Linked DNA regions of Homo sapiens. The protein of the gene in region 2 purifies or fractionates together with the protein of the main gene of each other region. This does not show direct contact. Each region holds a gene or a part of one and is shown on either strand. Other genes may lie near its edges.

Region 1 (4,338 bases), on a different chromosome or scaffold from region 2:
CATGCATTGTAAGGTACTTTGCACACTGTATTTCATTTAGGTCTCATACAACTGTTTAAGGTGGAAGATGTGCTTTTTGTATATAAAAAAGCACATCTCAAACTTCATCTCAAACTCATTTGCCCTTTACTTCAATCCACCCAGCTATATTTTAGTGTAATTCCCAAATGTTCTAAGAAACGCTGGAAAATAACAAAACACTGTGGAAAATTTTTCTTTAAATAACAGATATATAAACAGGTATTTTGATCTCACCTTAATAAGAGCTCTCATATTTTAGTTATGACCACACAAATTAAACCTTCTTGCATATACACAATGGTACATCTATGACAATTAGAGATAAATGCCTAACCCCACTTCCTTTTGCAGCAGAGGGGTGATACAGATCTGTCAACAGCTATGAATGTTAAAATAATTTTAAAAATCCTACTAAAAGGGCAAGAATTCAAGTGCTGAGAATCCAAACAGACTTCATGGATCCCACAGACAGTCCAATGACCCCAGGGATGTTTCTAAAATTGTTGAACTCCTATGTTTACTGTTCTCTTTCCTTCATTATCATTTACAAAAAGTTATAACAAATGTCCTAGACTAAGCCAGAAAAGCTTTATCTGATGAAAGGGATCATTCGGAAAGCCAATGTATGATAAAGGATTGAAAAACAAAAAAGACAGCTGGAAATAACCACCATAATGTTTCAACAACATTTATACATCTTTTTAATTAGATTAGCTTTACAAGCAACTTGAGAGCTCTTTCATAATGAAACACTGCTTTTCAAATTACATGACTTTATAGTCTATCTGTATATGAATCCTGAAAATCTTTGCCTACTCTTGATAAAGGTCTGTGTTTTACAGCTGGTTAATGTGTTGAATAAAAACAGCATTATGAAGCTTTATCTTTAACCAGGATTAAACACATATAGGCCACAAACAGTTTTAAATTTTGTTTGAAATAGAGTCCTGCTTGGTGACAAGTTAATAGTCCCACTAACATGAAATGAATGGATATTAAATAAATGGCCATCCTGATTTCTTGATCTTTTCACAATGATTCCTAAGAGAGTATATAAACTTTTCCAAAAAATATACAATTTAAGACCTGTCTGGCAAGCACAACCCACAGATAGTAGAATCTAATACTTTTTACAACTGTAGAGGTACACATTTGAATGACAACAGGGGCTCCCAAATTAAAAGGCTGTGGCTGTACATTTTGACAATCAAACAAACCTCCCATCAACATAAAACAATTTCTACTAACCCTAAAAAAGATAATGCTTTTGAGTTGTGGCCTAACGCCGCGCACTGTACTATAGACCAGATGGCAAAGACAACTTGCGCTCCTGGGTTGGGCTGGCAGAGGCACTTACTGTAGAGATGTGATGTTATCATCTGGAAGGAAGGGGAGGAAGTAGAACAAAACTGAATATGGGCGAGGAAAAAACAATAAACTATCACTTTCTCCTGCAAATTCTCCTAAGTGAGATCACTATACTGAACATTCAATCCCATCCTAAGTCCACTGTTGGCTTCACTACACAATTTTTTTCCATGTTTTACATGAATAGCAATGGCAATCTTTTAATAAAAATTACTGAGCTTCCCATAGAAAAGGTCTCAAATTGAATACAAACTATACAGATGCTAAAAATGTCTTAAGTTGAAATATACAGAAAATTTCTGTATACTCACATTTTGGCAAAGAAGATCAAGGACAGAGATAGAAAACCTAAGTGGGCAAGGTCTTACACCCATAATTCACGCAAAATATGGATACCACCCTTTAGGTTTTGCTAAAAAGCCTAGGAAAGTGAAGTCTAAGACATCCGTCCCAATTCATTCTTTAAATAACATGTATGTGAGGCCTTGTGTGATTTTCTAATATTCCTTCCTTGTTTAAAAAGTAAATAAGAAAACCCATGAAACAAAATAAAATTATCTGATTTTGCATCTGTTTTGTTTTTTTCTAAGCTAAGCATCTTTCAGTACAGGTAAGAAGGCTGGCATCACATCTGGGAAATGCCTTAACAGATATCTGAGGAGTTACTGCACATTCCGTCAGTAACACCACACTTCAGTTTCAATGTGTACATAATCTCCCCTTGATGCTCTTCAACAGAGACAAGGTTCTTGTCTGCAGATCAGATAGATCACAGTATTAGGAAAAAAACATAACAGCAAATTTGGAAGTACAATCAATTTAAGGAGAAGCAAAAGGAAAAGACTTAGAAATGGGACATTATTGTCTACATCTAGAGGATACATACACCTGAAAGCTTAAGAAAGCCCTTATCTTAGGAACTTGAAGCTGAGGATAATCTCAAGTTCACTTAGTGCCAGTCACTTTAGTTTTTTAAAAAATTTAACTTAAACCCCAGCCTAGGCAACATGGCAAAACCCCGTCTCTACTAAACATACAAAAATTAGTCAGGCATGGTGGTGTGTGCCTGCAGTCCCAGCTAGTTGGGAGGCTGAGGTGGGAGGATTGCTTGAACCTGGGAGGCGGAGGTTGCAGTGAGCCAAGAATGCACCACTCCCCTCCAGCCTGGGTAACAGAGCAAGACTGTCTCAAAAAAACAAAACAAAACAAAAAAATTTAAACTCTTCTTGTGTCTTTTTCCTTGTAAAACATTAACTAAAAGTTATTGGTAGTAAATGGTGACTGTTTTACAATTAGGTTTCGTTATTGACAATGTCAAAAAAAAAGCAGCAATCTTTAACAGTTCAAATTAGTGTAAGGAAGGACTACAAAACAATCTGATTTTTCAGTTGTAATTAAAGTGCTCCTTTTCTTATTTTAAGTAAAATAAAATTAATCATCAGTCACTGGCAACAATCATTATTAAGAGGTCTTTTAGGGCAAAATTTAATAGTATGAACAGGTTTACAAAAATAGATTGATGTTATTTTGAGGAATAATACTGTAATTTTTTCTCAATTCAGTTTAGATAAATTGTACCTAATATAGAAAAATTATCCCAAATTCAAACTTGATATAAAAAAGGGAGAGATGAAATGAACTCAGCTAGATAACAGATCTGGCAAAATATAAGAATGAAAAAAATTCTACACAGGGCACTTATTTCATATCCAGATGTAAAAACCATTTTCAATTAGTAGCTTATCTTCCTCCTGTAAGCAATCACAGATTTGAAGTTGATCATGCAGTACAAAGTCACAGCAGTCAAAATCTTCTGTTTGATGCAACACAAAAAGTTGTTTCTGTTTCCTTATTAAAATGCGAACTGGTTGTCTATTTTTCTTTATCCCATTTATTCGTATTCACAAGTTAACAAATAGTTAACAATATTGTAGGTGAAGTGGGGTATTGCTGGATCAAAGGCTCTAGAAGACGTCTTTACCGACCGAATCTGAAGGTTTATTGAGTTCAACCCTCACACCTTTTTCACCTGCAAGGTAAAAAAAAAAAAAATTTTCATTCATTCACTAAGCACCAGAGAGCTTCTGCTACTGCATTCCACTGAATTCCTAAGAGTATGGACAATATTTCAACTTTGCAAACATCATCTGAGAACTATCACGCTTGTACTTCCAAAAACTTCCCTCAGCATTCTATTGTGATGAGGTTTCAAATAGTAAACCTTCAAGGATAAAACCATCCTCTACACAGAGATAATGATTTTGTCTTTTTATTTTAAAAGCCATTTGAGTTTCTTCAACAGAGTGTTCAGTGTCTCTGAAAGCACACTGAGCTTGTGCCACAAATAATGGCTTTAAAAATACATAGAAAATGCATGAATATTCCATTTTTATGTAAGGTCGACGTGCGATTAGCAATGGCTCTGGAAAACACAGCTAATCAGTAATGTGAATACTCAGTGGATTTTTGGAGATAGAAAGTAGAGTTAAAGAAAAGAAGGTAAGTGGTCCATCAGATGGGAAACAGACCCCCTGCTCTTGGAGAGGCAGTCCATAAGTGGAAGAGAAGGGGAACTGGCATAATTAAAGGATCTTCAGGTTCAGTACAAGAGTGCTGACCTATGTACACCATTAGCAGATATGGAATCTACATGTCTGTGTCATTTACTGATTTTGGCATTTGAATTCATAATTCTTTGTATTAATTTTCTTCATGTCTACATTTAACATGGAAGACCTAGAGTACTGTTTAGAGCACATCCATTTGAAAAGGAAAGGGTATTAATTTAAGGAGTGAATGAGAGGAAACCATATGGCCGTTACCTAGAGTTAAGTGGCCTTTGACTGAAAAGGATAATCACAGAAAACTCAGTTTGTATGTGAATAATTTACTCAGACTTCTTTGCCTCAAATTTTCCACATCCTTTGACAATTTTTTTGGTTAAAGATA
Region 2 (3,157 bases):
GCAAACTTGGCCTCCTTATAAGGTCAACACTGAAGATGAGTAAAGGGAGCTGGGGTCGGACAATTTGCTCGACCTGCGCTGTCGAAGATGGTAGCCGCTAGCATGTGTGCTTATTAAAATTAAAATTACTTAAAATTAAATAAAACTAAATTAGTTTCTCAGACATTTCAAATACTTAACTGTCACATGTGTCACATGTCACACCCCTGAGGATGGAGGAAGTGGGGCAGAGGAAGCTGTGTGCTTGTCTGGAGCTCACGGAGACCTCACTTAATCTTGGGTCCTCTTTATTCCCACATTTCCTGAACCCATGCTCCAAAACCTATCCCTGGATCTCCTAGGCTTTCCTTCTTGATTTTAAAGAATTCCCTGAAGCTCCAGAGGCTTGGAGCCAGTAGGGGGTCTCAAGAACCTCGTTAGGGAGAAAGATGGTGAGGCCAGAGGCAGAGAGCTCTCTCTTGCGCCACCCGCAGTGCCGCACCTGTGGTCTCGCAGGTGGTCTTGCCTCCGGAAGGCTTTGTGGCAGATGTCACAGGTGTAGGGCCGCTCGTCGGTGTGCGTCCGCTCATGGATAAGTAGGTTGTAGGACTTGGTGAAGTGGCGGCCACAGAACTTGCAGACGAATTCCTTCTTGGTCTTGGAAGGCAGACGTCCCCTTGTGGGCTTCTTTTCTGGAGACAGCTTGGTCACGTCGAGGAGGGCACCCAGCCCACCTGCAGGGGAGCCTGGGCCCTCCCCGCGACCGAGCTTGGCCGGATCTTCTTGCGTTGCTGCCAAGGCCAGGTTGGCAAAATCAAAGCGCGGCTTGGTCTTGAGCGCTGGAACGCTGCCTCCAGCGGTGATCTCGGGCTTGGGTTGAATGACATGAGGGAACCAGGGAAAGGCGGGCAGCTGGAAGCGCGCATCCACCAAGCTGGACACCGTGCCCGGCACTTTGGAGAAAGAAGAGCGCGGCAAGTGCATGGCCGGGTAGCCCAGCGTCCACTGATGCAGGTGCACAGCGTGCAACGCGCTGAAACCATACAGGTTGGGCAGATGGTCCGAAGGCACTGTGGGCAGGCCGTTCACTGCCTGAAGGAAGGAGTAGTTGGTGAGCTGCAGGGAAGGGTGGATAGGCACCGGCGCCGGCAAGGTTTTGCTGCCCATTTCGGTAGTTGCAGTGGCTTCTCAATCCGGATCTGCAAAGAAAAGAAGAAGGCAGGGGCGTGGAGAGGAATAAAGAAGTTCAGGGTGGGTCGCCTTCCTCCTGAATTCCAGCCGAGCCACACCCTCTCCTCACACCCAGCGCAGGAGCTAAGAGTCTAAGACCCCATTCCCAAAACCCACTGCCCTCACAAAGAGGGTGGGAATGTAAGACGCAGGGGAGCCCTCTTTTCAGAACCCTCCTTGGTCTAAGGGCTCCCTCCAAATGGCGTCTGGCAGAGCCACACAACTTGATAGAGGGAAGGGCCTACTGTATGCAAGACACTGAGAAAGGAACAAGCAAAGGGAAACTGCCTGTCCTGTAGAAATTGACATCCAGGTAAGCCCGGGTCAACACAGAATCACAATCTCCTGCAAAGATAACAGGAGCTGGGGAACATACTTACACATTTATTTGCAGATAAACACAGAATTGCACACGTGGATTCAGACATTCTGAGGCAGAATTGACAAGGTGCAAAGACTGGGACAACCAATGTTTTATAGTACAACACTGGCTTTAAAAAAATGCAGGAACCCCTGAATCTCACACACACACACACACACACACACACACACACACGGGATCACATTGCACCCATGAAGAGCCTCACAGACAACACACATACACAGGCGCACAAATGCATGCACCTCCTGGCTCCCATTCATTAAGGTCTTCTGGCTGACCTTCGATTTGGCTTCCAGAAGCCCTGTCATCTTTCTCCTCAAAACCCTCAACTTTGACCTTAAATCTGCTTCCCTGCCTTAGTGTAAGTGAAACCTGTTGGCTCCACTCTCTCTGCAGCTGCTTGTGGACTGACTCTCTGCCTTGCCTTAGCCCTCGGGGACCACTTTGCTTTCAAGGAGGTTGCTAATATCCACATTCATTTACTCTGTCAAACAACTGCAGTCACAAACAAGGGGGTGTTAGTGCCCTCACTCCCCCAAAGAAAAAGGGAGCTGAGTCTTTGGGTTGTCAGCATGTTCTTGTGTGTTGTGAGCCCTGGGCAGGTGGGTATGCCTATGGGCAAGAACACTGAGGCCAGGCCTCCATTCCTGTGGTCTATGTACCTCCAAGTGCAAGGTTGGAGAGCTTGAGCAAGGCCAGAGGAAAGCCACACTGAAGTGACCAGGGGTTGGCATCTCCAGACCTCCTTGGCCATGGTCTCCAGCCTCCGTGGAGACATCTGAGCTCTGCAAAATGCTTTTCATCTCTACCTCCCAGACACTCCTAATTTAGATGTGTCCAGTGGAGGAAAGAACAGGGTGAGCAAAGTCTAAACTGTCAGGGAGCCTTGGGAAGCCCAAGCACTGAACTCCTGGCTCTTAGCTTGGGGCTACTTAAGAAGTCATTGTCACAGCAGGGTCCGTGGGACTCCCTTCTCTCTTGCCTAGCTTCAATCCCCTGCTGTTGACTTCTTCCTTTACCCTTCATTACTCTCCTCTTCCTAGGTCCTTTCCTCTAACATGGAGCAATTCCCCTTCCCTGGGATGCACTGGCCTCTGCTCTGCTCCCTAGTTTGGCGTGCCCCCTCCCCAGGTTGAGCTGACCCTCAGCCCAGGGCAAGGCCCAGGCATAGACTCCTCTGCCTTTCGCTGCAGCGAGGCTTTCAAAGCCTGGCTCTGTCCAGGGATGTGCAGTGCCTTTTCCCAGGAGGTATGAGGGCAATGTTGACCCAGGAAAACCTTTTCTCCTGGAAGCTGGCACGGGGGCCACTGGCTGTGTGGTGGGACCTAAGGAAAGAGGCCTTCCTGGGAATGGGGTGTAAAAACACCACGAGCTGGCCGTGATTTGCCTGCGCAGTTTAAATTAGCACTCGGATAAAAACCGTTGCAATGAATTTAGCCTCAGGGCAAGAGGAGGCATATTATCTGCGTGATCTGGCCTCTGAAGCAGAGCGCTGGTGCCGCTGGCAGCGCCGTGGCTTCAGCAACGGTCATCTCTACTGCGCCAAGCTCGGGTCGTGCCCGGGAC

What was found.
Region 1: the proteins of OSR1 (region 2) and EGLN1 purify together in Homo sapiens (affinity purification with western blotting, with the first as the bait; 2 studies listed by BioGRID). This does not show direct contact.

What each region holds. Positions count from the first base shown.
Region 1 is NC_000001.11:231,363,058-231,367,395, forward strand, and holds the end of EGLN1 (egl nine homolog 1), read right to left. Parts: intron 3,419-4,338; coding exon 3,354-3,418; 3' UTR 699-3,353; downstream 1-698. UniProt on the Homo sapiens protein: Cellular oxygen sensor that catalyzes, under normoxic conditions, the post-translational formation of 4-hydroxyproline in hypoxia-inducible factor (HIF) alpha proteins.
Region 2 is NC_000002.12:19,352,660-19,355,816, forward strand, and holds part of OSR1 (protein odd-skipped-related 1), read right to left. Parts: intron 1,179-3,157; 5' UTR 1,147-1,178; coding exon 482-1,146; intron 1-481. UniProt on the Homo sapiens protein: Transcription factor that plays a role in the regulation of embryonic heart and urogenital development.